4 linked regions of the Homo sapiens genome follow. The protein of the gene in region 1 purifies or fractionates together with the protein of each later gene. This does not show direct contact. Each region holds a gene or a part of one and is shown on either strand. Other genes may lie near its edges. The genes, in order: GUCY2D, MOCS1, TUFT1 and MXRA7.

Region 1 (6,726 bases):
CTTTCCTGGCGGGGAGGTGAAGCTCCAACAAGAAAATGAATGTTTGCTTTGTAAACTGTAAAGCGTGCACTTGGGGAGTAATGTCATTATCACCTTCCCTCATTGAGATTCCTTCGCCTCCCATCTTTAAATCCCCAAAACTCAGCCTGACCTCAACCCAGGACTCTGACACCAGAATATATTTTGACCTCTTGCATTGACCTCTACCTGCTAGGTGGCCCAGGGGAGTCGATCAAGTCTGGGTGCCCGCAGCATGTCAGACATTCGCAGCGGCCCCAGCCAACACTTGGACAGCCCCAACATTGGTGTCTATGAGGTGAGCCTGACCCCAGCCAGACAGAGAGACAGTGGGGGAAGAATGCTCAGGCCCTGGGCAGAGGGGAGGCGCACTCTCAGGAGGACATGTAGTCATGTCAAATCCTGCAGGCTCCAGGAGATGGGGGATGGGAGCCCAGACAGGATCTAGGGAAAGGTCATGGATCCCTCAAAGGGAAGCACCTAGGAATCTTCCCTCCCCAAGGATTTTTCTCTAGCCACTATCTGGGTAAGGGCTCCTCAAAAGCTAACCACAGTGACCCAGAGACTGGAGGCTGGAGCTGCCAGGGAGCATGCTGGGACCAGCAGGTAACATGGTGTGGCCACTGAGACCATCTCCGGCCTGGTCAGAGCCTCTGGCCCTGCCCCTCAGCATTTCCACCCAATTCAGACCAGACTCAGGAATAGCAACCCCTAGAGGGGGAAAAGAAAGTCACAAAAAAGTATTAGGACATTAACTTTGGGGCTGGTAAATCTGAATGCGGTCAAGTGGAGGGGAGATGATGAGAACAGATTGAGAGAGAGCTGAGAGTGCTGAGCAAATCAAGAGAGTAGAAATTTAGAGCTCCTGGGCTTCAGGTCATGGGAAGGAATGCAGAGGCTCCTATCATGTCACCTAGAGATCATCATGGCCAATTCTCAGAGGAGGCACTATTGTCATTTGGGGCAGATTGTCCTAAATTGTATGGGACTACTCTGTGCCTTGAAGAATATTTAGTGTTTCTTGTCTCTGGCCCTGTCCACTAATGCAGCTCCTAGTTTTTGTGACAGTTAAAACTTTCCCCACATTTATTTCCAAATGCTCCTTAGGGGTCAGTACTAAACCCCAATTCCCTTCTAAATTCCCTTCTAGTCCAAATCCCTTATAAACAAGACAGGGCCACCTGCATAATTAGCGAGATCCAGGGCAAGATAGAAATGAGGGGCTCCTCGTTCATTCATGATGATGGCAGGAGGTCATTGAACCAAGCTTGGGCCCTTCGGAGCACGAGGCCCTGTGTGACTGCACAGGTCCCATGCCTGTGAACCGGCCCTGCCAACAGTTGAGGATGAGGTCCAGCATCAGGAGGGGAGCTGTCTATAGTTCAGTTAGTTTTCAATAAAGCCTGATCTACCCAGATTTTTTACTCCCAGAACATGTTCTCTCATGGCAGTGGATGGTAATGAGGGTTGTGATGTCGATGACACTTGTGGTTGTATTAATGCACTTAATAGGACTATTGGTGGGCACAGCTGGGTTGGTGAGGACAGCCATCCATGGCTTCAGAATCTCTGTCATCCAGGGGTGGGCCCTCTCCCAGATGGCTGTGAAGTGGATGGGCATACATCAAACCCCTTGGTTCAATGCATTTTGTCACATGGAAGATGCATTCTGGGACAGTGAGCCAATGGAAATGAGGGGGAGGGGTTCTAGGGCTCCCCATCGTGGGATTTTAAGAGACTGAGTTCCCTACCCCCATCCTCTTTGCTGCAGGGAGACAGGGTTTGGCTGAAGAAATTCCCAGGGGATCAGCACATAGCTATCCGCCCAGCAACCAAGACGGCCTTCTCCAAGGTGAGACTTGGGCCTGTGATGGGGCCTAGGTGGCCATCGGTTTCTCCCTCCTTGCCTTCTCTTTGCAGCTGGGTACAGAGGTAGGTCTCAGTTAAGTGTCCCCTCTGGCTGAGTGTGGTGGCTCATACGTGTAATCCTGGCACTTTGAGAGGCAGATGTGAGGGAGGATCACCTGAGGCCAGGAGTTCAAGACCAGCCTGGGCAACATAAAGAAACCCTATCTCTCCAAAAATTTTAAAATTAGCTGGGTGTGGCGTTACATGCCTGTAGTCCCAGCTACTCTTCAGAGGGTGAGGAGGGAGGATTATTTGAGCCTGGGAGTTGGAGGTTACCGTGGGCTGTGATCATACTACTGCACTCCAGCCTGGGTGACAGAGCAAGACCCTGTCAAAATTAAGAAAGAAAAAAAAAAACATGTTTCCTCCACCCTGGAGTAGGCTTTCATTATTCTCTGCCACACCACTAGTTCTTTCCTTTGATCTTGTTGCAATGTGCAATTGTATGTTCATCTGTCTGCCTGCTTGTTTCTGCCTCTCTCGCTGGACTGTAAGCTGAGTGAGGGCCTCCTCACTCCCCTCCATTGTAATCAAGCACCCAACACAGTGTCTGGAACATTAGAGAGACCCAGTGAATGTTTGTTGATCTAATGATAGAAAATAAAAAATGAGTTTCCGGTTCTGTCAGGCCACTTGTGCAGAATAGCCCTGGACATTCTGAATGAAGTGCAAAGTTGGCAAGGAGGCTGTAAATGGCTTATTCTGGTCCTTACAACCTTAATGTCTCCCTTTATCTCCATGCCATGCAGCCTGGGCCTGGCCTTCTTCCCTGATTCCTCTACAGGAGCTCTTGGTCACAGATGCAGTGACTTAAGTGGACTATGTGTATGGGGATTAATGAACTCGATCACCATTTAATACCAGGTGTTTAAAATGAAAAGTATCTGGGCGCGGTGGCTCACACCTGTGATCCCAGCACTTTGGGAGGCCGAGGCGGGCGGATCACGAGGTCAGGAGATCGAGACCATCCTGGCTAACACGGTGAAACCCCGTCTCTACTAAAAATACAAAAAAAATTAGCCGGGTGTGGTGGCGGGCGCCTGTAGTCCCAGCTACTGTGGGAGGCTGAGGCAGAAGAATGGCGTGAACCCGGGAGGCGGAGCTTGCAGTAAGCCGAGATCGCGGCACTGCACTTCAGCCTGGGCGACAGAGCAAGATTCCGTCTCAAAAAAAAAAAAAAAAAAGGAAAGGAAAGAAAAGTATCCCCTTATTGGGCATGTGGAGGGAAAAGCTAGAAAGGGCACCAGTCAGCCAGCTAAGCCACCTTTTTTTCTAGCATGCCCCGATTGTGAGGGCACTGTCCTGCAGAGCAGTCAGTCCTGTCTTCCCTAACTGAGGGAGGGTGGGAGTCTCAGACCCGACTGACACAATGACGTAACGCCAAGCAGAGCAGCCCCCGGCCAGGTTGCAGGCACACGCCATTTCTGGTGTCCTTTGAAAGTGGCACAGCTTCAGGCCGGGCACCGTGGCTCACGCCTGTAATCCCAGCACTTTGGGAGGCTGAGGTGGATGGACCACCTGAGGTCAGGAGTTCGAGACCAGACTGGCCAACATAGCAAAACCCCATCTCTACTAAAAATACAAAAATTAGCCAGGCATGATGGCACACACCTGTAATCCCAGCTATTCGGGAGGCTGAGACGGGAGAATCGCTTGAGCTCAGGATGCGGAGGTTGCAGTGACCCGAGATTGCACGACTGCAATCCAGCCTGGGTGACAGAGTAAGAATCTGTCTAAAAAAAAAATACATAAACAAAAGAAAAGAAAGAAAGTGGCACCGCTCCTCCCTGGCTCTCCCAGCAAAGGCTGTTAAATCAGGAGAGGATGGTGGTTCCAGGAGCTTCTCCTTCATGAGCTGCTTCCCTTAAGACCCAGGCAGTTCAGAGTTTTATGGCTGGGGCCAGGTGTGGTGGCTCAGGCCTATAATCCCAGCACTTTGGGAGGCTGAGGTGGGAGGATCATTTGAAGCCAGGAGTTCAAGACCAGCCTGGGCAACATAGCAAGGCTCCCATCTCTACAGAAAAAAAATTTTAAATGTTATCTAGGCATGGTGGCACAAGCCTGTAGTCCCAGCTATTCAGGAGGCTGAGGTAGGAGGATCACTTGAACCAAGGAATGAAAGGTAGCAGTGATTTATGATCATGCCGCTGCACTCCAGTCTGGGCAACAGAGTGAGACCTCGTGTCTAAAAAAAAAGGCTTATGATCAATAAATCCGAACCTGCCTGGGTCCTGATCACCAATGCAAAGTTGTCTTTTCATTCACAGCATTAGGCTAAACCATACTCAGTATCCAAACAGTGGCCTTTGACTATATTGTTTTTTCCAAAAATAGGACTATGTGTAGAAGAGAGCCCCCGTACATACCTTATCAACCATTTCATCCACCATTTGTAAAAATCTCATCTTCTGGGTCTGGATACTCAAAAACAGATCTTGATTAACAGCCCCTTCCCCACATTGCCCTGGGCAGAAAATGCAAGTCAACTCTCCCCCTCTCAGCTCCAGGAGCTCCGGCATGAGAACGTGGCCCTCTACCTGGGGCTTTTCCTGGCTCGGGGAGCAGAAGGCCCTGCGGCCCTCTGGGAGGGCAACCTGGCTGTGGTCTCAGAGCACTGCACGCGGGGCTCTCTTCAGGACCTCCTCGCTCAGAGAGAAATAAAGCTGGACTGGATGTTCAAGTCCTCCCTCCTGCTGGACCTTATCAAGGTGTGTGTCTGGGGGTGGTGGGGTGACGTCCTGGGGGCAGGGATGGGGAGCAAGGGAACCAAGCAGGCTGAGGCTGCCTCTTACCCTACCCATTCCAAGGGAATAAGGTATCTGCACCATCGAGGCGTGGCTCATGGGCGGCTGAAGTCACGGAACTGCATAGTGGATGGCAGATTCGTACTCAAGATCACTGACCACGGCCACGGGAGACTGCTGGAAGCACAGAAGGTGCTACCGGAGCCTCCCAGAGCGGAGGGTAAGAGTCCCCTGTGCAGACGAGGATCCACCGGGATCCCCATTATTTCAAGGGCTTCTCCCCCGCTTCCTCCCTACCTCTGCCCTCGCACTCTCTTCATCCCACATCCACCAGACACAATTCCTGCTACAGAAAAGATCTTGTGGCCTCTGAGAGGGTGGGCTCTGTGACTTCGGAGACGGGGCTGCTGGGGGCGGGACTTGTACCTGAGCTGCCTGCAGCAGGGTTTGCTCTGATTACAAGTTTGCCTGAGGGTGGGGCTTGTGCCCAAGAGACGGAGCCTTCCCTGGGCACCACCTTTTCTGAAGGGCAAGGCCTATTTGCCAGGCTTTCTCTGAGATGGCTCCTAGAGATAGTTGCAGGGCTGGTCTCAGGTTGCAGGGTCTCAGACCGGTCTCAGGCTGCAGGGTTGGTGGTGTCTGGGTGCCAACCTGGGCTTTCTGGTGAGGGTGGGAGTCTTTCCCCAGCGGCGCCTCAGCCCCTTCCCCATCCCCAGACCAGCTGTGGACAGCCCCGGAGCTGCTTAGGGACCCAGCCCTGGAGCGCCGGGGAACGCTGGCCGGCGACGTCTTTAGCTTGGCCATCATCATGCAAGAAGTAGTGTGCCGCAGTGCCCCTTATGCCATGCTGGAGCTCACTCCCGAGGGTAAGGCTGCCCTGTGCGTGGAGTTCGGCCCACAGGGGCACCCTGCAGTTAGAAAAGAGCCAGCCTCACTCTTTCCTCTAAAGCAAAGCCCAGTGATGAAACTCAATTATACGGAGGCCCCCTTAAAGCTGGCATCTGCAGGTCTGGGTGCAGAAAGCCGTGCATGGCCAGGGTGGGGAGCGTGGTTCATTAGGTCCCAGACCACAACAGCTTCCTCTTTCTTGATGCTGGAACCAAACTGTTTCCACAACTGACAGAACAGACTCCTCTCTGTTCTCAGGGGTCCCTGGGAGGAGCAGGGGAGGGGGAGTGGGTGCATCCCTTCTGCACAGGACTCTGAGCAAACTACTTGATCACCTATCCCTCACTTGTCTTACATACAATATGTTAGTTTCTTTGCCTATGTCACCTCTTACTGACCCCCAGAGTTCGAGGTCCTCTTGTTCCTCCTAGCAACCCCCTTCCACACTATACTCTCCCTCCACACACACACACTGAACCTCTGATGTAAAGAAACCCCTGCCAGGCACCCCCTCCCACATCTTGGTCTTCAACAGTCAGGCCAGGGTCAGAGGCAGCCTTTGTGTTCTGGGGGCACTCCCCCTCACTGTCCCCTCATGCCTCCAGAAGTGGTGCAGAGGGTGCGGAGCCCCCCTCCACTGTGTCGGCCCTTGGTGTCCATGGACCAGGCACCTGTCGAGTGTATCCTCCTGATGAAGCAGTGCTGGGCAGAGCAGCCGGAACTTCGGCCCTCCATGGACCACACCTTCGACCTGGTCAGGGGCTGGGAGTGGGCAAGGACTGGGCTGGCCTCTGGGATCCCAGATGCTTGTCAGCAACCTGAGACAGCTGCAGACAGGCAGGCTGGCAGGACCTCTGGCCTTCCAGGCTACCTCCTAAGGAGTAGCCTGAAGACTCGGAGTTTGGGGGCAGAATTGGAATGGGGGCTGTGGAGGCTTTTGGAGTGGGAGATAGAGTTCTGTCTGGGTGGGAGGAATATTCAATTCAATTCAAATAACACTGATTGAGAACCAAGTATGTGCTTGGCCTGCTGTGACAGAAAGACCCTTGGCCTGGGAGCCCAACGATTGGGCTGGCTCCAGTGCCCTGTCAATTACTAGCTGAGATCAACTGACCTCTGGGAACCCTCATTTCCCACGTGCCTCCTAATCGTGTCTGAAAACACAGTG
Region 2 (7,567 bases), on another chromosome or scaffold:
CACGGAGAGGAAACAGCCCAGGCCAGCCTGGGACCCTGGGAATATGATCCGTTGAGTGCTTCCTACTACTTCTGGCATGTCCCAGCCCTCCTGAGCAAGCAGGGTTGCTGTCTACTCTGTCCTATAATTCCCTCTGAATCTTGGGCTCCTTTGACTGGTGCTGATATTTTTTTCCTCCAGGAGACTTAAGGGACAGGGAAAAAAGTAGAAGAATGAAAGTAGGGCATGCAGTGTTAGAGGAGAGAAGATGCAGGAATGGGGCTCGTTAATATCTGAGTAATGAGTTTGCATTGCTGGCAGGGTGAGAGTGTGTGTGTTTAGGAGGCTGGGTTCAGAACGGGTGGTGCAGTCTGCATAAGTCTAGACAAGGTCACAGAAGTTCTTAAAAGTGAAATCTGACCAGCCTCTCCCATTGCCAGAACAAAAGCACCAAATTCCATTTTTTTTTTTTTTTTTTTTTTTGAGAGAATCTCGCTCTGTTGCCCAGGCTGGAGTACAGTGGTGCGATCTTGGCTGACTGCCACATCTGCCTTCTGGGTTCAAGCGATTCTCTTGCCTCAGCCTCCCGAGTAGCTGGGATTACAGACTCGCGCCACCACAGCCAGCTAACTTTTGTATTTTTTAGTAGAGACGGGGTTTTGCCATGTTGCCCAGGCTAGTCTCACACTCCTGGCCTCAAATGATCTGCCCTCCTCGGCCTCCCAAAGTGCTGGGATTCCAGGCGTGAACCACCACACCCGGCCCCTAATTCCATTCTTGATTGCTCCATCACACTGCTTGCTCTCAGGTTTCTGCTGAATAATGCTCCTTGGTCCTCTCAACTTCCAATTCTTTGATGTATTTTGACTCCTCCCCCATCCAGCCACCCCATCCCCCCATCATGTCAAGACTGGGTTGAGGGGGGGTATCTTGGCAAGTGAAGAGGCAGAATCTAGGGTGACTAACATGACTGAATTGCAAATAGCTGTTGATGAAAAAGAGGGCACAGCACTGCAATACATCCAGATTCCCAGGTATCTCATCTGGACTCCGGTGGCTGATGGGATTCTTGATTATGGAGTGCTCCCCGCCCCAACCCTGAGGCTATCTGTGGAAAGGCAATGGGTTGAGTTTGAGTTTTCTCCATCATACCGCAGGGAGGGAGGAAGTGACTGTTGTGATTATAGCAGACGGCAGTTAGAGAAGTGACTGCTGCTTACTCCCCACAGGATGGTGAGCAGGGCTTCTCAGAGGAGGTGGGAAATTCTCCCGCGGTGGGTAGAGTGAGGAATGTTTTATGGGCCCAGAAAATCAAGAGCAGCTTCACACATACTCTCATGTCTCTTATCTTTGAGCCACTCAGTGGCTCTTGACCCAGTCAAGGGCTGCCGATGAGAATTACCTGGAGAGATTGAAAACGTAACAGATTCAGAGATCCAGATTTAGTTGGTCTCCACTGGAATGTTTTTTTAAAGTTCTCCAGATGGTTCTAATGTGCAGCTGGAGCTGAGGAACTTACTGAAGCAAATGCTTCTTCCTCCTAATTGTAGGCATAGTTGCGCTAGACCTTTGGAGGGCCTGAGACCTTCTGTTCTTCATCATAATTTTAAGTGTTCACCTACCATCTTCTGATACCACCACTACCACTCCACCCCTGTCTTTACTCCTAGCAAGACAACCTTAGCCTGTAGCTGTATTCTTATTTTACAACTGGGAAAGCAGGCCTGGAGAAGTTAAGGGACTTTCACAGTGTACCAGGTCATACCTACTGCAGAAACCAGGGTTTCTTATTCCCATTCCAGAACCTTGTCTGTAGATCTCATGCATGACTTCCAGGGTCGTGATTTTTTTGTCTGAAATATTCTAGAGAAGTGACTTCTACCCACCCTAGTTGTCATCCTCCCTATCTTCTTGGACTCTCTCTGTGATAGAAGGGAGTAATTTAGAACCTGGAATCAGGGTCGGGTGTGGTGGCTCATGCCTGTAATCCCAGCACTTTGGGGGGCCAAGGCAGGTGGATCACGAGGTCAGGAGATCGAGACCATCCTGGCTAACACAGCGAAACCCCGTCTCTACTAAAGATACAAAAAATTAGCCGGGTGCAGTGGCGGGTGCCTGTAGTCCCAGCTACTTGGGAGACTGAGGCAGGAGAATGGCATGAATCTGGGAGGTGGAGTTTGCAGTGAGCCAAGATCGCGCTACTGCACTCCAGCCTGGGCAAAAGAGCGAGACTCCATCTCAAAAAAAAAAAAAAAGAACCTGGAATCAGAAGACCTGGATTTGAATCCTGCTTCTGCCGAGGGTGTTCTTGGACCCCATCCAAGCCTTAGTTATAATAATCCCTTGTGGAGTGGGTGTGGGAATGAAACAGAACGTTCTTTGGAAACTTTAAGATGCTTGGTAAATGCTACTTCCTTGGAGCAATTATCTCATCAGCATCTGTCGGGACCCAGGTTGTACTCTCCAAGGACCGATAGGTCAGGGGGAGACGGATCAGACTAGATCAGACTTGTACATGGGAAAGAGTGAAGCCGGCTCCCTCCTTTCTCTCTGCAGGACGGGTTTGGGCCTTGCTTGTGGCCTTCAGCAGTCTCTTCTCATTTATGCCCGAGACCATGGGTGCACAATCCTTTTTTTGGCACTGGCTAGAGTGAAGAATAAGGGCTAATAGATTTCCCCACACCCTTGCCTCCACCTTGCTGCCCAGCCAGAAATCTTCCCAGTAGAGATCACCATCCGCCCCCGACCCCCAAGCTGAATACTTAAGGGGTGGGTCCTTCCCATCAAGCTGATTTCTCAACGAGAGGGACAATCCCAGCTTCCCCAACATTGCAGAGCCCAAACATGTGGAAGAGTTGGAAGCTCCGCACAGATGTCAGAGTAAGGGAGGGGGCAGGCGGTTCTCCTTGTGCCTCTTCCCAGCCCGGTAGCAGGGGCCCATGCTTCCTCCCTGGTCTGTCCTCGCAGGAGGTGTCCAGGCGGAGGCAGTTCCTGCGGGAGCATGCGGCCCCCTTCTCCGCCTTCCTCACAGACAGCTTCGGCCGGCAGCACAGCTACCTGCGGATCTCCCTCACAGAGAAGTGCAACCTCAGATGTGAGTCACCTTCCTGGGCCCTCTCTGGGCTGGTGTCCATCTGCTGAAGCAGCCCTTGAAATTTCCCTGTGCCTGGAAATCCTCCTGTGTCCTCCAGTTCTGCTTTCTAACTTCTTCACCTGCTACCCCTTGCTTACCAGGCCAGGTGGGCTTCAGGGGCAAGATAGGGGTCAAGGCTGAGTTGTATGATTATAGAAGCTGTGTCCTACTTGGAATTAGATTTGAAAACATAAATGCAGTTGGATTTAGAATTAAGATTGGATCCTGGACCTCTCATTCTTCAGGGGTCCTTCCTCCTGTTTCCCTGTAGTTCCCGAAGTCCAGGACATGGCCAGGGGTGGGGTGGTGGACATTATAAACATTTGAAGTAGACAGCCATGCCCATGCCAGCACTGCTGACTCTGGAGGTGCCCCAGTCCCGTGACAAATCAGCTGGGGCTAGGCTAATAACAAAGAGGCCTCATTTCATAATCCTCCCAAAGAGTGCTCTGGATCTGTAGCCACTGCTGGAGGGACTTCCAAAGTTGATCTTCCTTCCCCTCTGTTCCTTCCTTCTGCCTCTCCCCACTTTCCCCTCCCCTTCCCCCCTTCCCCCCCTTCTTTTCCTCCCCACTTTCTTTCACTATACCTCACGATAAGAAATAAAGTTACTTCATGGCCCAATAAATGCATGCATGTATGTTTAGTAACTTTTTAACCAAACAAGATGTACTATATGCTTTACATTCTGGTAGTCTTACTTATTCTCTTCAGTCTCAAAGGACTGGTTCTGGACCCAACTGAGTAATTTGCCTTCATGACTCTCTAACAGATCTTGACCCAAACCTTAATGAAACTGCACCACAGGAAGTGATGGTGGAGGATGGTGGCCCTTCCACAGCCTGCCGCTGCTCACCTCATTTACCCCATTCTGATACCTCACCATGAACAAGTAGTATCTCAGTTTTCCAACATATAAAATGGGTCTGATGATAACCTGAAATAGATAGAGTGGATTTGAGAATGCTTGTAGCTACAGAGGACGGCAGCTTTTGCCAGGCCAGAGAGTACCTCTCTCTCACCCCATGACACACAGAGAGAAAGCTACCTGTTTGCCATAGCCAGTGAAATGCAGGAGGATGGGTGACAATGCCAGGAGGAACGCCCCTGCCCAGGTGCCCTCAGCCCAGGAAGTCAGGCCAGGCTCTGCCCTCAGCCTACTTCATCTCTAACCCATGCCCTTGGCCTCCCACTGAGGGATGTTATGGCCAGATTGTGTGTGTTGGGCATAGGGAAAGGTGTTAACGTTTCAGAAATGAGAAAGGTGAGGCCTGGGGAGATGCTGGCCTGGGGTTTTTCCACCTCAGGTTTAGTGAGGTCTCCGCTCACATCCAGATGGGTTTGAGAAGCCTTTGGCCTGATGGAGAGTTGGGGAGTGGAGGCATCACGGGGCTGTGGCCGTGCCTCTTTCCTCCCTCCACATTCCCATTCATCCTTCCCTCAGGTCAGTACTGCATGCCCGAGGAGGGGGTCCCGCTGACCCCCAAAGCCAACCTGCTGACCACAGAGGAGATCCTGACCCTCGCCCGGCTCTTTGTGAAGGAAGGCATCGACAAGATCCGGCTCACAGGTGGAGAGCCGCTTATCCGGCCGGACGTGGTGGACATTGTGGGTGAGTTGGACGAAAGTCATCGCCACTTCTCCCAGCGCTGCCTCATCCGGCTGGACACTGATGCCGATGTTAACAGTGGCAGCTGACATTCATTTAGCACATGACACTCTCTTGGTCCTACAACACCTGCTGAGACAGGTGCTATTATTATTTCCATTTTTGATGAGAAAATGAGGCTTAGGTTGGATAACTTGCCCAAGGTCAGGAAGCTCGCAAATGCCAGACCTCAGTAGCTTGCTGTCACATTGAGACCAAGGTCCTCCAGGAGGCCCACGTGACCTGGCTCTTGCTGACCTCCAAAACCCTTGCAGGCTTCTCCACCTTTCCCCTCCTTCCCATTCACATGACCGGGCCTTGACATGTGCTGTTCCCTTTGCTAGGAGCTCAGGGCACTCTCCTCGACCTCATTCAGGTCTCTGTTCACATGTCATCTTCTCAGCAAGGCCTTCCTCAACCATCCTGTCTAAAGTGCGTCCTCATGTACTCACACCAGCCACTCTTTCCCAGAAATTGGCAAGTTATAGCAGCCAAATCTGGGCCGACATGTGTTTTTGTCTAACGTGCAAACTGAGTGTTGTTTGTTTGTTTGTTTGTTTTTGAGATAGAGTCTCGCTCTGTCACCTAGGCTAGAGTGCAGTGGCAGGATCTCGGCTCACTGCAACCTCCACCTCCCAGGTTCAAGTGACTCTCCTTCCTCAGCCTCCAGAGTAGCTGGGCTTACAGGCACACACCGCTATGCCTGGCTAATTTTTTGTGTTTTTAGCAGAGACGGGGTTTCACCATGTTGGCTAAGCTGGTCTCGAAACCCTGACCTCAAGTGATCCACACACCTCGGCCTCCCAAAGTGCTGAGATTACAGGCGTGAGCCACTGCATCCTGCCATGGTTTTTATGCTCCTAAATAATGGGGAAAAAAATAAAATAATAACATTTTCTACCACACGAAAATTATAAAATCCTATATGTTCAGTGTCTATTAATGGAGTTTTATTGGAATATAGCCATGCCCATTCATTTACATATTGCCCATGGCTGCTTTGGCAGAGTTGCATGGTGTTGACAAAGACTGTGTTGCAAAGCTGGCCAGCCAAGTAGAAAATATTTACTATCTGGACTTCCACAGAAAAAGTGTGGCAACCCCTGCCCTACTCACTTACCCTACTTTGTTTTGCTTCATAGCATTTATCTCATCCTGGCACTGTGTGTTTGGGTTGTGTGTTTGGTTTCTTTAATTGTCTGTCTCCTGCATTCGCTGGCGTGAAAGCTCTCAGGTTGCTGGAGCAGGTTTTGTTTTTGGCATCCAGTACCGTGCCTGACACGTGGTTGATGCTCCCTGAAATTCGCTGAATGAATGGAGACTGGGTCAGAGTAGTCTCTGCAGTACGGCATATTCCTATCTGAGTCTCCACTGTGCCTCTTACAAGAAGCGTACCTTGGGCAACTTTTAAAATCTGTTCTAAGCCTTGAGGCAGTGATAGTACCTACCTTATAAGGTTGACCTGAGGAGGGAATGAGAATGAAATGCCCAGCCTATGGCAAGTGCTCTGTAAAGGTAGCTCTAAAGGGCCTCTTGCCATGAGCTTCTAAACCCCAAGATCAGGAAAGAGACCTTTGCTCATGTAATTATAGGTGATGAAATCGGGGCTATGAGGTTCCATGTTCTTGATTGCTGCCCCGTCCAGCTGCTTTGGACAGGACCCCCCGCCCCTCAGCTCTCTAGCTCAGTAATTGTTCGCTGGAGTGCCCTCTTGCATGCCTCCTACTGTGCTGAGCACACGAAGATGAATGAGCACCAGCCCTGCTGTTGAGGACCTGTGGCCCACTGGAGGAAGCAGCTGCTGTATAAGGGGAGCCTAGGTGCTGTGAGAGTCCCAAGGAGGGGCCCAGGTCCCCCTGACAGCCCTCTTCTCCCTCCTGCCCCATGGCCAGCTCCCTTCAGCTCCTACTGGTCACTTGGCCTGGGAACCTCTGTCATCCTGTGCTGGCTGAGCTGGCCCAGGCAAGCTGACCCCATGTTCCAGGCAGCTCCTCAGGGCTAAAAGGCAGGCTGGCTGCCAGGAAAGGGCTGAACCTGCTGAACCAGCTGCTTGCCAGGCCCAGCCCCCTCATCCAGGCCACTTCCTCTCCCTGGCACCCGCGGGCATGGGCCGCCTTGTGCCAGGACCTGTGAGAGAGCAGAGGGGATGAGGATCACTCACTGGTCAGGGAGGTACAGGATGGCTGAGCACTGGTATGAGGACTCGGGGCTCTCCCGGGAAACCCCAGCATGCAGAGAGGGAAGAATGGGAGCCAGGAAAGTTGGTAGCTCTGTCCCCATTCTGCCACTCTCTGGCTGGGTGAACTTGTGCAGGTTCCTTCCCCACCGAGGGCCTCAGTTTCCTCAGCTGTGGATGAGCCACTTTAAGGATGTTTTCTGCTGTGATATTCTGTGGTTATTGGCCCTGGCTGATGGAATGGGATGGGCAAGGGGTGATCGCCACATGGATGCTAGTTAGGACAAGGCCCCGCTTGCAGTGACCTGCTTCTGAGGATTTACCTCCTGCCTCCCAGGTGGTGGGGGTGGGTGAAACACCTCCCCTTGCCCCTCTCCCAGTGCTTCAAAAAGAATGGTGGCTGCACCCCCTCACTTCCTGTGGCGCTGTGCCTGTGAGCACTCTGACATCCCTCAGGGGCTAGCCTCTGATCTTCCCCAGAGGAGCTGCTTCAGAGCAAAGCAGCCTTGAAGGGCAGGGCAGATGGGTGCTGGTGGAGGAAGGAGGGATGGGGGAAGAGAGAGAACAGAAGTCAGGGCCAGGATGTTCACGAACACTTGTGCCTACCCTCTCACGTGAGGGTTTTGAGGGG
Region 3 (7,567 bases), on another chromosome or scaffold:
GAGATCAGGAGTTCGAGACCAGCCTGACCAACATGGCAAAACCCCATCTCTACTAAAAATACAAAATTAGCCAGGTGTGGTGGTGCGCACCTATAATCCCAGCTACTTGGGAGACTGAGGCAGGAGAATCATATGTACCCAGGAGGTGGCGGTTGCAGTGAGCCGAGATCACGCCATTGCACTCCAGCCTGGGCAACAAGAGTGAAACTCCGTCTCAAACAAACAAAAAAAAGAGCATGGCTCTGGGAATCTGACTAAGGTGGGCTCTAATCAGGCTTTGATGTCTGCTTTGCCCAAGCTCACTTAGGCAAATTACTTAATTTCTTCATTCTTAGTTTTCTCACTTGTAAAACTGGGATAATAATTGCACCCTTCTCATAAGGTAGTTGTGAGGATTAAATTAGATAATACACATAAAATATGAAGCACAGTGCCTGGCATGTGGTAAGTACTCAGAGGTTAGCTATTATTTTCTATTTCTACTGGCTTAGACTAGACTGTTTTAACCTCCTATAAGCAACCAGCCAAGGGATGGAGGAAGAGTCTGGGAACTCTCTGGTTTGGGCAAGGTTTGCTCCTCCTCATTATGCTGACTTTTGTTTATTCCTGTTTCTTTCTCGTTTCCTTGATGATCCAGGTCCCTCAACCAGTGGAGAGTCCCAGGGGTGAGAGGAAGGCCTACAGATAGACCCAGGGTGAAGACCTGAGTAACCTTTGCTAGTCCTGACTCAGCCAGTACTGGTCTTAGACTGGTGATGGGTCAGGGTTCATATTTTGGCATCTCTCTCTGGGCATCTTTCCTCTTCTTTTTTAGACCTCATGACCAAGGCAGCTGGTGTCCCCTGCTGCTCTGGTTTCTTTAAGTAATATATCAGTTTTATCTTTCTTTCGAATATTTGCATTTTTTTCTTTTTTTTTTTTTTCTACAGCATCTTTTTATTGTCTTTACCATTACTTTAATGCATTTTAAAATTTATCTACATTAATTGGGAACTATTTGCATTTTTTTCATCCTCTCTCTCTTTTTCTTTTTCTTTTTTTGGATTTGTCTTGGCCAGAGAGGTTCTCCAACACCCGGGTGGACTTGGAATTTTTTTATCAGCTGCAATCTGAAGACTTGTCTTTACTGTGGAATAGGTGACATTCCTTTAGGACCTCAGAAGCTCAAGTAGTTTAATGCCAAGTCTTTCCAGAGCCTCACTCTCTTTTATTTTTTAAATTAGAATTGTGATTTATTGAAGCCTTACCATGAGCTTCATATAATTTTTTATGAACAGCTTTATTGAGATATAATTCATATACCCCATTTAAAGTATGTAACTCAGTGGTTTTTAGTACATTCACAGAGTTGTGCAATCATCAATAAATCAATTTTAGAACATTTCCTTACCTTATAAAGAAATCCTGACCCATTAGCAGTCACTCCCCATTTCCCCCCAATCTCTCTCAGCCCTAGGCAGCCACCAGTCTACTTTTTTTCTCTATGGATTTACCTATTGTGGATATTTAATATAAATGTAATCATCGGTATGTGATCCTTTGTGACTGGCATCTTTTATTAGAATGATGTTTTCAAGGTTCATCCATGTTGTAATGTGAATCAGTACTTCATTCCTTTTTATGGCTGAATAATATTCCATTATTTAGATGTATTACAACTGTGTTCGTCATGGATAAATGTTGGTGGACATTTGGGTTCTTTCTACTTTTTGGCTATCATTTATAATGCTGCTACGAACTTTGGTGTACAAGTTTTTGTGTGGAAATATATTTTCATTTCTCTTGGAGAGGAATACCTAGGAGTGGGATTGCTGGGTCAGAATATTTGCATTTTAAAGGAGGATTCATCTGTAGCCATTGCTGCTTACTCCAGAGGACTGAATGTATTCTAAAATGTGGAAGTCCTGGTTCTGTGACATCTGAGTGTGGGGAAAAACTGCTGGGCAGAGGAGCCTTTCAAGTTTGGTGGCTGCCTGTTCCTTCTACTCATGAAACTTGTCCTAAACTCAGCCCATAAATTTCTCCTCACACCATCCCATCTCTCCCATTTATTGCCAGGTTCTTACTTTCAGGAGCACTGCATTTTTCTGATGTCACCAAGGCTGCCAGGAATTTGGGGAATGCTGGGCTTTGCCAGAGAAGGAGGGATCTCCTCTGAGCGAGGAGAGTTACCTCATCATCAGGCATTTGGCACTAACATTTGCCCATAGTTCTCCAGGGTGGAGGGGGGCGTGCACCCAGATGGTTTCAGTTCCAGACACGTGTGCTCAGAGAGGTGGGATGAGCTTCCTTGCCTGCTAGTAATTATGGTGCATGCCTCTTTGGGTCAAGGTGCAGAGGCTTGTGAAATACCTTTGTTTTCTAGGGGTTGGGAAGGTTCAGTTGCGGAAATAGGTATGTGCCAGGAAGGCTGGTGGCCCAGATTTAAGCCTGGCCAGCAGAGGCAGGAAGTGGAGGAGACAATATAGGGTAAGAAGGGGATGAGTCGATGAAGGAAGAAAAGAGACGTGGTTTTCTTGGGTCTGGGAGCACAGAAGCAAAAATCACTAAGCAGGTAGTCAGAGACTAGAGAGGGCAGAGCCACTCCCTTTGATGCAGAGGGGGCACTGAGGAACTTGCCCTTTCATTCCAGGTTTGCTGGTCGCTAGGCAGGTGTCCTAGAGTGAGACTGGCTTAGCAAGTGGGTGTCTCCTTCAGAGTTGGTTCAGGAGCTCACTTCCCTCTACAGACACACTGTCACTGCTAGGCCCTAGTGTTTTCCTTTGTTAGGGCTCCAAGTAATGAGAAAGGCTGCCCCATGTAGGGTGCCACCTCAAATCCTTTTTCTCATTTCACCTCACAGTAACCCTGGTGAGCCCTCTACATAGTGCCTGTCCAGCCCATGCCTCTGGGTAGGCAGCCACATAAAAATCAAACACCTGTTTTGTTGGCTAATCTGGGGAGGAAGAAAGGGAGTGATTCTTTGTGTCATACTCCACAAAGGGCCATCTCTGGCCTAGGCAGCACTGCAGAAGGCAGGACCATGTACCTGAGACTGATGAGCTGAGTCGGGTGCGAGCCTCACTCAAGGAGAGGGTAGAGAGGGTAGGTACCCACCTATCCCATCCGGCTCTGTTCTTTGAGTTTATGGGACTTCCTTCATCCTGATCACTTGGGTGCCATTGTTACAAGGGGCTGGCTATTCCTACTTTTCTTTTTTCTTTTTCTTTTCTTTTTTTTTTTTTTTTGAGACGGAGTCTTGCTCTGTCACCAGGCTGGAGTACAGTGGCCCAATCTTGGCTCACTGCAGCCTCCACCTCCCAGGTTCAAGTGATTCTCCTGCCTCAGCCTCCCAAGTAGCTGGAGCTACAGGCGTGCGCCACCACGCCCAGCTAATTTTTGTATTTTTAGTAGAGATGGGGTTTCATCCTGTTGGCCAGGATGATCTCAATCTCTTAACCTCGTGATTCGCCTGCCTTGGCCTCCCAAAGTGCTGGGATTACAGGCTTGAGCCTCCGTGCCCAGCCTCCCATTTTTCAAAGTGGGGAAACTGAAGTGACTGCTCCTCCAGCAGCTTGAGAGGCCATGTACACTTGGGGTGGGAAAGTGGGTGGGATTGAGGGGCAAAGTGAGGGAAGAGTGGGATACAGGGTGAAGATGAATTAAGGTTGCTGGTTTCCAGCTCAGGGGCAATCTCCACTTCCTTTACTTCCTCTTAGAAAGAACCTTACACTTGACTCCTACCCAGTCCTAGTGACCCCTGTAAAACCTGGGGAGTGAGAGCTGGGGGAACGCAGGCTTTTCCCTATTCACATGAGCCTGTGGTGTGAGAACTCTGCACCTCTCTCCTTATTTCCCTGGGGCCTCCCTGTTTATCTCCTTATCTCTGCTGTGGCGTCTTGATCTCTAACCCCTCAGCTATGTGTTTACCCCCTCCCTGCTTTGAGGAGTGAGTCAGGGTTGGAGATTTGTTTGAACAGAGTGGTGAGGCTGCCTATAATTTGGAGGTAGCTGGGCTTCTCCCAAAAATGTTTATGAGGTTAGAGGCTGCTTACCTTGTGATTAGTACTGCTCCTTTTTCCCTAGAGAAGAAGGCTCCACTTCTCATCTTGCCTTTTAGAGTACCCAGTAGAGACCCCCCTGCCGGATATTTTTGGGGTGTTCCTAAAGCTCCCTGGAGCCTGCTCATAGTCCTGAGGAAATGCAAGCCTGCTCTAGAAAACAACTAAGTGCACCAGGCAGAGAGGAGCCCCAGGATTTGCTCCTTGACTCTGGGTTGGGGGTGCAGGCCGAGGTCTGTGGCCTTGCTGACTAAGATGCATTCTCCAGTTCTGGAGGATGAGGTGCCAGAGAGAGCCCTAAGTTTTTCATCAGCTCCATTAGACAATTTACCTCATCCACCCTCTTCCCTTGCAGACTTTCCAGAGCTACTTGGGAAAGTAATGCTGCTTCACCCTTGTGAAGAGATGTATGGTTTGCAAATCACTTTTACATCATTCTTGCACATCTATCTACTCTTCCTAAAATGTCGGTTGTGAAATTATCACCCTCATTTTACAGACAGAAAACTGAGGCCCAGAGAGATTAAGTGATTTGCTCAAGGATTAATGGTCATCAATCAGGACTCAGACATCCTGCCTCTGACTTCAAGTTTAGTACTTTGTTTTGAAACAGAGTCTCGCTCTGTCACCTGGGTTGGAGTGCATGGCACAGTCTTGGCTCACTGCCGCCTTGACCTTATGAGCTCAATTGATCCTCTCACCTCAGCTTCCCTAGTAGCTGGGACTGCAGGTGTGCACCACCACACCAGGCTAATTTTTGTACTTTTTGTAGAGACAGGGTCTCATTATGTTGCCCAGGCTGGTCTCAAACTCCTGGACTCAGGTGATCTGCCCTCCTGGGCCTCCCAAAGTGCTGGGATTACAGGCGTGAGCCAACATGCCTAGCCAAGTTTAGTACTTTTTCTTTCCTTCTCTTTATATGTTTTATTATAGGAGTGTCACAGGGCTCACTGCACCTCTCTCCTTATCTCCCTGGGGCCTCTGCCTCCCAGGTTCAAGCGATTCTCCTGCCTCAGCCTCCCAGGCAACTGGGATTACAGGTGCCCACCACCACACCTGGCCAGTGTTTTGTATTTTTAGTAGAGACGGGGTTTCACCATGTTGGCCAGGCTGGCCTTGAACTCCTGACCTCTGGTGATCCACCTGCTTTGGCCTCCCAAAGTTCTGGGATTATAGGCGTGAGCCACTGTGCCTGGCCCAAATAGTTTTTTCGTTTGTTTGTTTTTTTGAGACAGAGTCTCACTCTGTCACCCAGGCTGGAGTGCAATGGCGTGATCTTGGCTCACTGCAGCCTCCGCCCCTTGGGTTTAAGCGATTCTCCCACCTCAGTTTCCCGAGTAGCTGGGATTACAAGCATGCACCACCAGGCCCAGCTAATTTTTATATTTTCAGTGGAGACGGGGTTTCACCATGTTGACCAGGTTGGTCTCAAACTCCAGACCTCAAGTGATCTGCCTGCCTCGGCCTTCCAAAGTGCTGGGATTACAGGCGTGAGCCACCACACCTGGCCCCAGCTTGCTTTTTCACTTAACACTTATTTTGAGATTTATTCATGTCAATGCATGTTTCATAGTTCATTTATTTTCACAGCTGAATAGTAGTTCATTGTACTAATATGTCAGGGTTTATTCATTCATTTTCTAATTAGCCAGGCACGGTGGTGCACGCCTGTAGTCCAGCTGCTTAGGAAGCTGAGATGAGAGGATCAATTGAGCCTGGGAGGTCAAGGCTGCAGTGAGGCATGATCATGCCACTGCACTCCCGCCTGGGTAACACAGTGAGACCCTGTCTCAAAAATAATATATAATTTAAAAATTTGTTTTCTTGTCAGTGGGCCATCTGGGTGGTTTCTGGTATTTTGCCATTGCATGCAATGCTACTGTGAACATATTTCTACATGTCTTATCTTTATATTTCTATAAGTGTAATGAAATCCCCCCAAAATAGCTCATTAGCATTTTAATTTGCCTTTTCCTTTACTGGTGAGGTTGAGCATCTTTCCTATTCCATTAGCCACTTGTTATTTCTTTTTAGAGTTGCCTTCTTAGTCTTTGCTCAGTTTTTCCTTGACCTTCCTCTGCTACTTTTCTGTGTCTGCTTTTTCTAGTATTCCATACTGCTTCTCTAAACTGAAGAGCTGGAGTTTCTCAAAGGGAATTGGGAAAATCCCTGAACATATCACCTGGAACTCATGCAACAACATATTTTTTTGAGAACCTATTCTAGGCCAGCCATTGTACTAAATAAGCTATCCATGTCTTCAAGGAGCTTATGATTTTCTCGGGGGAGATGAATGAATTGTTACAAAAGAATGGGCTCCTTGTTAAAGTGCAGGATATGTAGGTTGCAGTAGGTGCTCTGACTGAGGGAGGAGTGCTGGGATAAGGGTCGGACCCTCAGAGAGGAGATACCTTGAAGGCTGAGCAGGAATTCTCCAAGGAGGCAAGGGAGGAGAGGATACCCCGGTCGGAGAAAGCAACATGCGCACCTCTGGGGAGGTGGGAGCACGTATTGCACTGGAAGACCCGTTAGCAGAAACAGACTTGGCTTTGGATGCCTTCTACAATTGGATCAGGAAAAAGTTGGGGATAGAGTGCAGGGTACATTGGGGTACTGGAGGGAGTCAAAACATTTTATGTGGTATAAACTGTGATGGTCCTGATCATAAGGGGACTCTAATACCATAATAAGGAGTTTTTGACTTTTTGTTTTTAAAAACATTTAATAGTAACATATATACAGAAAAATATGTACATCACAAATGTCCAGTCAAGTAATTTTCACAAACTAGACACATTCCTGTGAGCAGCACCCAGATCAAGAAACAAATCATTACGGGCACTGCAGAAGCCCCCTCATGTCCCCTTCTAATTACCACCTACCTCCACCTCAAGGGTAACCACTATCCTGACTTCTAAAGTGCAAATTATATTAGTTTTGCTTATTTTTGTGCTTTTTATATAAGTGGAATCATACAGTATACTTTTGTGTCTGGATTCTTTTGCTTAACATCTTTGTGAGATTTACTGATGTTGCATGTACAGTGCTTCATTCTTTTTCATTGTTGTACAAAGTTCCATTGTATGAATATATTACAATTTATTCTACTCTTGCTGAACATGTGGGTAATTTCTGGTTTGAGGCTATTTTGAAAAATGCTACTGTGAACTTTCTAGTATACATGCTTTTATGGGAAACATATGTATGTGCCAGGGCAAAGGGAAAGCCTCTCCTTCACCCTCGGAAGTTTTGCTGAAAATCACTGACAAAAGAAAATAGGGAAAAAGGCCCGGGCGCGGTGGCTCACGCCTTTAATCCCAGCACTTTGGGAAGCCGAGGCGGGTGGATTACCTGAGGTCAGGAGTTCGAGAGCAGCCTGCCCAACATGGTGAAACCCCATCTCTACTAAAAATACAAAAATTAGCTGGGTGTGGTGGGACACGCCGGTAATCCCAGCTACTTGGGAGGCTGAGGCAGGAGAATTGCTTGAGCCCGGGAGGTGGAGGTTGCAGTGAGCCGAGATCGTG
Region 4 (7,567 bases), about 69 Mb from region 1:
CAGGAGGCAGACGTTGCAGTGAGCCGAGATCGCGCCACTGCACGCCAGCCTGGGCAACAAGAGCCAAAACTCTGTCTCAGAAACACACTCAGAAAAAAACAGAAACCAAACAAACAAAAAGTCACTCAGAGGAGCTCAAGGCCCCTCTGGGTTTGCCACTTCCGACCCGCTGTGGGGCTTGTAAAAACTTTGCCTCCCGGCACAGCTCAGTGTTTTGTTAGGGAGCCTCCCGTGAGCGGCCGACGCTGGCTGGGCTCCATGGGATCAGCTGGGGCTGCTCATTCATTCATTTCCACATCTACCCACTGGGCTTCCAAGTTGAAGTTCCTGGGGCTCCCATGTCCCCTCCCCATGACCTTCAATCCCACAGAGCCCATGGGCACGGCACGTCGCTCTCATCCTCTGACATTCCTGCAAGCTGAAGTCACTTCTTCCTTCCACCAAGGCCATCCCGGGCCATTCCTCTGATCATCTGTTTATTGTGTCTCTGTGTGGGAGAGAACTGGCTGAAGAGGTGGGGCTCCAGTTTTGGGAACATGGACACTGAGAGAGTTGGGGATGGAAAACAACATAGAAGGAAGCAAAGCCAGAGGCTGCGATGGCCATGCTGCCTGGCCCTGGTCCCAGACAGACACCCCAGCCAGCTTTCCTCTTGCACCCTTTGTCTGCTGGCCGCAGCGTCGCAGTGGGAGTCCTGGGCCCACTTCTCCAAATGGCACACAGAAGCCTCAACAGGCACCCACCTGGGAAAGGCCAAGGCCGAGGGCTTGGGGTGCACAGTCAAGAACACGCCTCAGCTCAGCATTTGTGAGCCGAGTCACTTTGGCCCATCGTTTGTACACAGCCCCCACCTGCTGGTTGACCATGACCACAGGGCAGGCGCTGCCACAGGGCGTGGGCAGGCTGGACCTTCGAGGGCCTCCTCTGTCTCCCCTACCTTCTGCCCCCCCACCACTTCCCATCACCCAGTCTGTGCCAAGGGCACTGACCCTGTCCTTGTCTTGCAGGAAGAGGAGCAGGACTTGGATGGTGAGAAGGGGCCATCATCGGAAGGGCCTGAGGAGGAGGACGGTGAGTGGGACCTCTGCGCTCATGAGGGGGCCTGACAGTGTCGGGGGTGGTCTGTGTCCTGCTGGGGATCACAGGAGCTGGGGTTCGAGTGCCGAGGGGAGGGATGGGGTGGGACAGTGGCCTGAGTGGGGCATGAGAGGTAGAGTCTGGCGCCATGGATGTCCTGCCCTGGCCTGCCTGTAGCCCTCCCTCACCCCCATTGCACTTTGGGGCTTGGCTTTCCCATCCCGGGGCCCCTCTTGGGAACACACTACACGCCCTGCCTGGCTCTGTCCTGCGCTGCCTCCTAACTCCCCTTTTGTGACCGCGCTGTACATTTCACGATTCTCTCCAAACATCTCTGACCTATTTTACTGAGACGAAAACCACTCACACGGCCTCCCCCGTGCCTTCTTCAGAACGAAGGCCCCAGGAGGGCACACGCCTGCTTTCTAAGCAGCTCTGGCTGACTGGCCACAGGCCCCAGCCATGAGACTGAGAGGAGAAAGGGAGTGACCGAGAACAGGGGAGACACTGCCAGATCGGACCCGGCCAGGACAGACAGAGGCGGAACCAAACATGGAGTGGCTTCTGCTGGGTCCATCCACTTATTTCTCTAAAAAAGAAAGCGGAGGCAGACATGCAAGATGTCAGCGTTTGTTGGCTCTGTGTGGCAAGCACAGGGAGGATTAGTGCTTTCTGCATTTTTGTATGTTTGAAATATTTCATAATTTTAAAAAAGCAAGTCTGCTTTTGTGATGTTAAGTCGGCTGCTGGCAGGAGCAGTGGAAAGAGAAGGTTTCAGGAATGTAGGAACCAGCTCCTGCGGGCAGGCTGGGCTGGGGTGCAGAGCTTCCCCTGAGGCAGTGCCTTGGTTTCCATCAGCACAGCCTGAAGCAGGAGGGGAGAATGAAGCTTGGGTGCAGGCGGTGGGCTGCAGGTGGGGACATTAGTCCCTTACCAGGAAGGACCCTTGCTCCCTGCTTTTGGGGACTGGGGACTCACCGCAGCCATGGCCCTGGCATCTGTCCCTGCCATGTGGCCTGAGACAGCTGAAGGGATGCAGGGATCCTGTTAGTGACTTGGGGACACGGGAGGGAGGCCCTTTGGCAAGGACAAGGAGAGAGGCTCGCAGACCCCTCTCCCTGGCATAGCTGCCAGAGGGCACAGTCCCCCAGCACTGTCACCAGCCTCCCCCCTTATCTGCACCGCTGCTCCTGAACATCCCCCACCCCCAGCGCCTCCTGCCATCTTAGCCTCCTGCCATCTCTAGCAAGGCAGGGAAAGGAAAGGTTTATGGCTCCAGCTGTTGGAAGAATGTGTGAGCACCTCCAGCCCCTCTGCAGTACGAGGCAGCCTCAGAGGTTAATTATTAGTGTCGCTAAAATGACTTCCCTGAGCGACTAGGTGAATTCACAGGAGACTGGAGGAAGAAACCTCCCCCGTCCCTCGGAGGCTGTCACGTTGAATTCTGGTCTAGCAAAACTGGATGCGCTGCCTGGTGCACTGCATGTGACTGAGCGAAATCCTTTTCAAGTCGTTTGTTCTGTCTGGCTCAGAAAACAAAACTAATCAGACTTGCCCCATAAATTGAAACCTAAGACTGGGACCAAGGCAGGATTTTGTATGTTTTCTTTTTTTGGGGGGTAGGGGGATACTGGAATCTTACTCTATTGCCCAGGCTGGAGTACAGTGGCGCGATCTCGGCTCACTGCAACCTCTGCCTCCCGGGTTCAAGCGATTCTCCTGCCTCAGCCTCCTGAGTAGCTGGGATTACAGGCGCCTGCCACCACGCCCGGCTAATTTTTTGTATTTTTAGTAGAGACGGGGTTTTGCCACATTGGCCAGGTTGGTCTCGAACTCCTGGCCTCAAGTGATCCACCTGCCTTGGCCTCCCAAGGTGCTGGGATTACAGGCATGAGCCACCACACCCAACCAGATGTTTGGGTTCTGAATTCGCATCTAGAACCTTCTTCCTTTCACCCTGAGAGCCCCCCCGCCTCCCCATCGGTCCACATCAGCCTATCCGGTAGCATGAAGGCTGCAAGCTAGAGGGGAGGGGCCTGGCTTTTCGGGCTGCTGGACAGGATATGGAGGGACAGAGAGGGCAGCACTTCCAGAATAGCAGCTGAGGATCTCTCTATGCCTCCCTCACTGGGTCCTTTAGTTAGTGGAGGTCGATAAGAGGCCAGCCAGCTCTGCCCGACACCTGCTGGATTCAGGAACCAAGAGGTTGCTCCCCCATGGGGCTTTTCCCTCTGGAAGCTCAGCTTTTCTCTCCTCACCGTGGCTCATGTGCCCGGAGCCTGTGTCCACTCCAGGCCACAGGTCCTGGCTTCCTCTGTGCCCACCACCTACCCATCCATGTGCCCTCTTCAGGCCTCGAGATCTGTCCGTTTTTTGCAGGCAGCAATGGGGGGTCTCCCCTCGGGGACTGGCAAATCGGGCTCTGCCTCTTCAGCGGTACACACGTCAAACCTGCTGCAGCAAATCCCGCATCCCTGGCCTGGCCACTGTGGGCTGCCTGGATGCGTGTTTTCAGATTTCCAATAGCCACAGGGGGTGGGGGGATGACACAAGCCTCCCCAAGCCCAGGCAGGCGTGGTGTGTGTCCCAAGATGAGCTGTGCTCTGCTTGCCGGAGTTGTCGCCTCTGAGCTCAGTAGCCGAGAGGACCTGCTGGGCAGGGCCAGGGCAAGGCAGAGCACTGCAGATGTTGGGAGGGATGTGGCATCTGGAGACAGCTGTGGACTAGGAGTAGGACTGCTTTCTCTCTGGCTGTCTCGTTGTAGGATTTAAGGGAAAGCTATGGAACGAGAGGGGGTATAGGCGCTGGGGTGAGATGTCTCTGATAGCCAGATGTGGCCTCTGCTTGAGGTGTTTCTTTTTAAACCTAGGGAAAGGGGGCCGGGGTTTGTGGGGCCAGCCTCTACAGCACTCCTGGCACTTACTGGGTCCCCCCTCCACAGGAGAAGGCTTCTCCTTCAAATACAGCCCCGGGAAGCTGAGGGGAAACCAGTACAAGAAGATGATGACCAAAGAGGAGCTGGAGGAGGAGCAGAGGTAGGCTGCAGCCCCTTCGCTGGCGCCTGGCGGGCTCTTGGGGGAGGGGGGTGCCCCTCTGAGCCCTTCATGTTCCTGCCCCTTGGCAGAAGGGCCCAGAAAGGAGGTGGGGCTCCTACACGCTCTGCCCAACCACCGCCCCACCTTCCCAGTTTAGGAGTTCTTTCCTGCCCTGGTCAGCCAGGCTCGCACACCCCTGGCACCCCTCCCTGGCACTGACCAGAAGGAGGCCACTGGTGATGGGGGATACAGAGCCCATTTACTGCACCCCCCCACCCCCTCCACACCCCACTGCCCCCATCTAAAGAAATGAGATGCCAGGAAAGAGCCTGGAGCAGACCTGGCTGTCACTCACACACACAGTCCCCAACAGAGCTGATTTCTCCATTTCTCCTTCGGGACACAGCGGATTCTTGGTGCTCATCCTTCAGCGGCCTCCCAGGCCGGCGCCTGCAGCAGCGCCTTGTAGCTCCGGGCAGTGCAGCTATGGCTTCTCGTTGTTGGAATTGGCTCCCCCTTCCCATTTGGACACCCCCTGCACAGCCACTGGGCACCCCGCCACCTTTTCCCTCCACACCATCCTGCTGGGCGGGGAAGGGGTGCGCTGGGCACAGTGGGACAGCTGGGGAGGTCTCAGCAGAGGGACAGTCCTTTGCACCAGGCGCAGCAGGCTCCTGGTGCTCACCCACACTGCTGCCCTTCTGCAGCGTGGCCTGGAGTCCTTTGGTTAAAGCAGAAGTCTAGGTGGTAGCTGTGCCATTTTCCAAGCCTGGCGACCCAGAGCAGCTTGTGGGAATCACCCCCTACTTGTCAGCAGAAACCAGCGGTCTAGGGTCCGAGCAGGAGGGGTGGTTTATGATTTTGGAATCAGAACTCAACTGCCCTCTCATGGCTGCATGCCAAGCCACCCGCCGGGCAGCCCTCTAACCTCACAGCTGCTCTGCCGGTGACAGGCCCTGTCTCCCCTCCCGCTGCTGGCATCAGCGCTCTCGACCCTCAGCAGGAAAGCTCTTCACCCTGGGTGGGTGGGGGGCGGGCAGTGTAAGCACAGCCAGGAGGAAGAGCCCTGGCAGGAGCCCCGAGTCCTCAGGTGCTGAGGATGCTGCCGCTTGGCATGACCAGGTTTGCTGCATTTATATTTCAGGATTGAGCTGACCTCTGACCTCACTTCCCTGTAGCAAGTTCCTTAGGTCCTGAGCCACAAATATTCTTGCAAATCCTTTTGGTAAGGACACTGATTTCTTAGACTAGTGGTGCTCCCCTTCTACTGCGTGCTAACGTGCCCCCAAACAACTGACGCGGCCTCAACCTCCCCTCCTCCATCGCCTTCATAACCGATTAATACATTTCCCACCTGAGCCCTTCTCATTCTTCTCAAGCACGAGGAATCTCTGGCAGAAGAGGCCCCGTCTGGGGGCAGAGGTTCCTGGAGGGGAGTTAAGTCCCTGAGTTCCTGGAGGGGGCCTAATGGGCCGGCAGGTTGGGGTGCTAGCGCCCCCTCGCAAGGCTGGGGGAACTGTCACCCTGGGACCTCAGGCTTCGGAAATGTGGATGTCGTCACCCTGCAGCCTTGGGTCTCACCCTGAGAAGATGAGGCAGCTTCTGCACAGTGCACAGCAGATACTCTGAGAACGGTCCGTGCTCCCAAGCTGTGAGACAGGCAGGTTCTTAGGATCAGGGCAAGGGTTAGCAGACAACGGCCGGGCCACATCTGATCCCCCACCTGCCTGTGCCAATCCAGCGTGGCAGTAGTAGCAACACTCACCCATTTTCCTGTGGTCTGTGCCTCTTTGTGCCGCAGTGGCCGAGGTGAGTCACTGCAGCAGAGACCACACAGCCCCCCAAATCTAAGTAGTATCTGGCTGTTTGCAGAAAAAGGTTGCAGTCCCTGGACAGAGGCTAGAGGGGGCTGGACACAACTGCCAGCCCTTGAAGGTCCCTGGGGACAGAGGCTGCTCAGGCAGATGGATCTGGAGGGCCTCTTAGAACAAGAAAGACCAGGCCTCCGGCTGGGGGTGAAACTGCCACTGCCACCCACGTCCAGAGCTGGGACCTTGGCAGTGGGGAGGGAAAATCCCTTCCCCTTATTTTCAGAGAGTAGACCCTCTGCTGCCCATCCTTCCCCCACTGGATCTTTGGAGGTCTCTAGACCACCAACCCACACTTGGCTGTTCTGTGGGACCGAGACTGTGCCCGAGGTGCTGCTCCTGGGACGAGGGAAGACTCCTCGACTCCTCTGCATGCTGCAGTTACCACTTTGTGCCCTGAATTGAGAAGGAGGGGCCGGAGGACTTCTTGGGGCAGGACTGGAGTTCACGTTCATTCCCATCACTGCCCAGCCCGCATGCTCCCTGTGGCTCCTAGGCATGCCGGTGGCATCTGCTTGCTCCCCCACACCTCTGCCCCCCTGCATGTGGTTGCCCCTCGCAGCACTGCGTGGGGTCTCCGCGGCTCCACATCACGCTGTCCTCACACGGTGATGCTTGGGGTTGCAGAGGCTGGTCAGTTTGGCTTTGGCTCTTCATCTTCAGCACGATGGTTCTCATGGGGGTGGGGAGCGCTGGCAGCTGTGAGACAGTTCTGGTCCCAGCCAAGTCCAGGGAACCGCCCTAGAATCATCAGTATGAAAAATAACATGCCTGTTGTTATCAAACCACTAAAACCACAGGCCAGCTAGCAGGGTGCTCTCTCTCCGCCTGTCAGGTTCCACCCTCCCGGCCTCCATGCCTCTGATGCCTTTCCCAGCTCTCAGGGTCCAGTCGAGTTGCAGCTACAAGCTGCACGTCCCCTAACTTTAAATTTACTAGCTCAGCCAACAGATCTGCATCTAGAACCTGAAGCTTTAGTGGTTGCCAGTTCCAGCACTCCCCAGGAGCTTCAGTTCACAGGCTCTCATGACAATTAGGAAGTGGGACTGGAAGCAGAAGGCCCCCAATTAGTTCCCCGACATGCTGAAGTGGTCAGTCTCATCCTTGAACTACTCACAGATCAAATTCCTTCCGCCTGGGGCCAGAAAGCGGTCAGGTCTGTAAATCCAGAGGCAGCTGCTGCTTAAGATCCTGCTTGCCACTGTCTGCCCGCCTCCTCAGCTCTCCCCTCGGGCCGGAGTTTCACACACTTCATGCCTCTGGTGGCGTCCCTGGGTTCCGCTGAAGCTGCTGTGGGAAGTGCCACCTCCAGTTTCACAGTGTGGCTAGGACAGTGGGCTTGCAGGCTGGTGACAGCTCCCCTGAGCAAGAGGCCTCCTCCTCCTCCCCCAGAGCTAGGGAAGCTGGCAGGGCTTGGCTGGCTTCACAGCTTGGCAGGAGAAAGAACAGGCGCGGCTGTCAGCTCCTCTCCATCACTTCTTCCCACCTTGTGGTCTCAGAGGGAAAATGAACCCAGGCTATAGACTGGGCTGGCTCTGATAGATCAGGACCCACCCCTCCATTTGAGGTCTGCAGGGCTGTCTTGAC

Evidence for each region.
Region 2: the proteins of GUCY2D (region 1) and MOCS1 purify together in Homo sapiens (affinity purification with mass spectrometry; one large-scale study listed by BioGRID and IntAct). This does not show direct contact.
Region 3: the proteins of GUCY2D (region 1) and TUFT1 purify together in Homo sapiens (affinity purification with mass spectrometry; one large-scale study listed by BioGRID and IntAct). This does not show direct contact.
Region 4: the proteins of GUCY2D (region 1) and MXRA7 purify together in Homo sapiens (affinity purification with mass spectrometry; one large-scale study listed by BioGRID and IntAct). This does not show direct contact.

Annotation. Positions count from the first base shown.
Region 1 is NC_000017.11:8,007,717-8,014,442, forward strand, and holds part of GUCY2D (retinal guanylyl cyclase 1 precursor), read left to right. Parts: intron 1-214; coding exon 215-316; intron 317-1,789; coding exon 1,790-1,870; intron 1,871-4,427; coding exon 4,428-4,634; intron 4,635-4,733; coding exon 4,734-4,890; intron 4,891-5,386; coding exon 5,387-5,536; intron 5,537-6,163; coding exon 6,164-6,312; intron 6,313-6,726. UniProt on the Homo sapiens protein: Catalyzes the synthesis of cyclic GMP (cGMP) in rods and cones of photoreceptors. Plays an essential role in phototransduction, by mediating cGMP replenishment.
Region 2 is NC_000006.12:39,922,835-39,930,401, reverse strand, and holds part of MOCS1 (molybdenum cofactor biosynthesis protein 1), read left to right. Parts: intron 1-2,685; exon of another isoform or gene 2,686-2,823; coding exon of another isoform or gene 2,824-2,946; coding exon 2,947-3,073; intron 3,074-4,556; coding exon 4,557-4,724; intron 4,725-7,567. UniProt on the Homo sapiens protein: Isoform MOCS1A and isoform MOCS1B probably form a complex that catalyzes the conversion of 5'-GTP to cyclic pyranopterin monophosphate (cPMP).
Region 3 is NC_000001.11:151,545,095-151,552,661, forward strand, and holds part of TUFT1 (tuftelin), read left to right. Parts: intron 1-701; exon of another isoform or gene 702-797; intron 798-7,567. UniProt on the Homo sapiens protein: Involved in the structural organization of the epidermis. Involved in the mineralization and structural organization of enamel.
Region 4 is NC_000017.11:76,681,617-76,689,183, reverse strand, and holds part of MXRA7 (matrix-remodeling-associated protein 7), read left to right. Parts: intron 1-470; exon of another isoform or gene 471-536; coding exon of another isoform or gene 537-1,007; coding exon 1,008-1,071; intron 1,072-4,018; coding exon 4,019-4,112; intron 4,113-5,256; coding exon of another isoform or gene 5,257-5,290; exon of another isoform or gene 5,291-5,337; intron 5,338-7,567.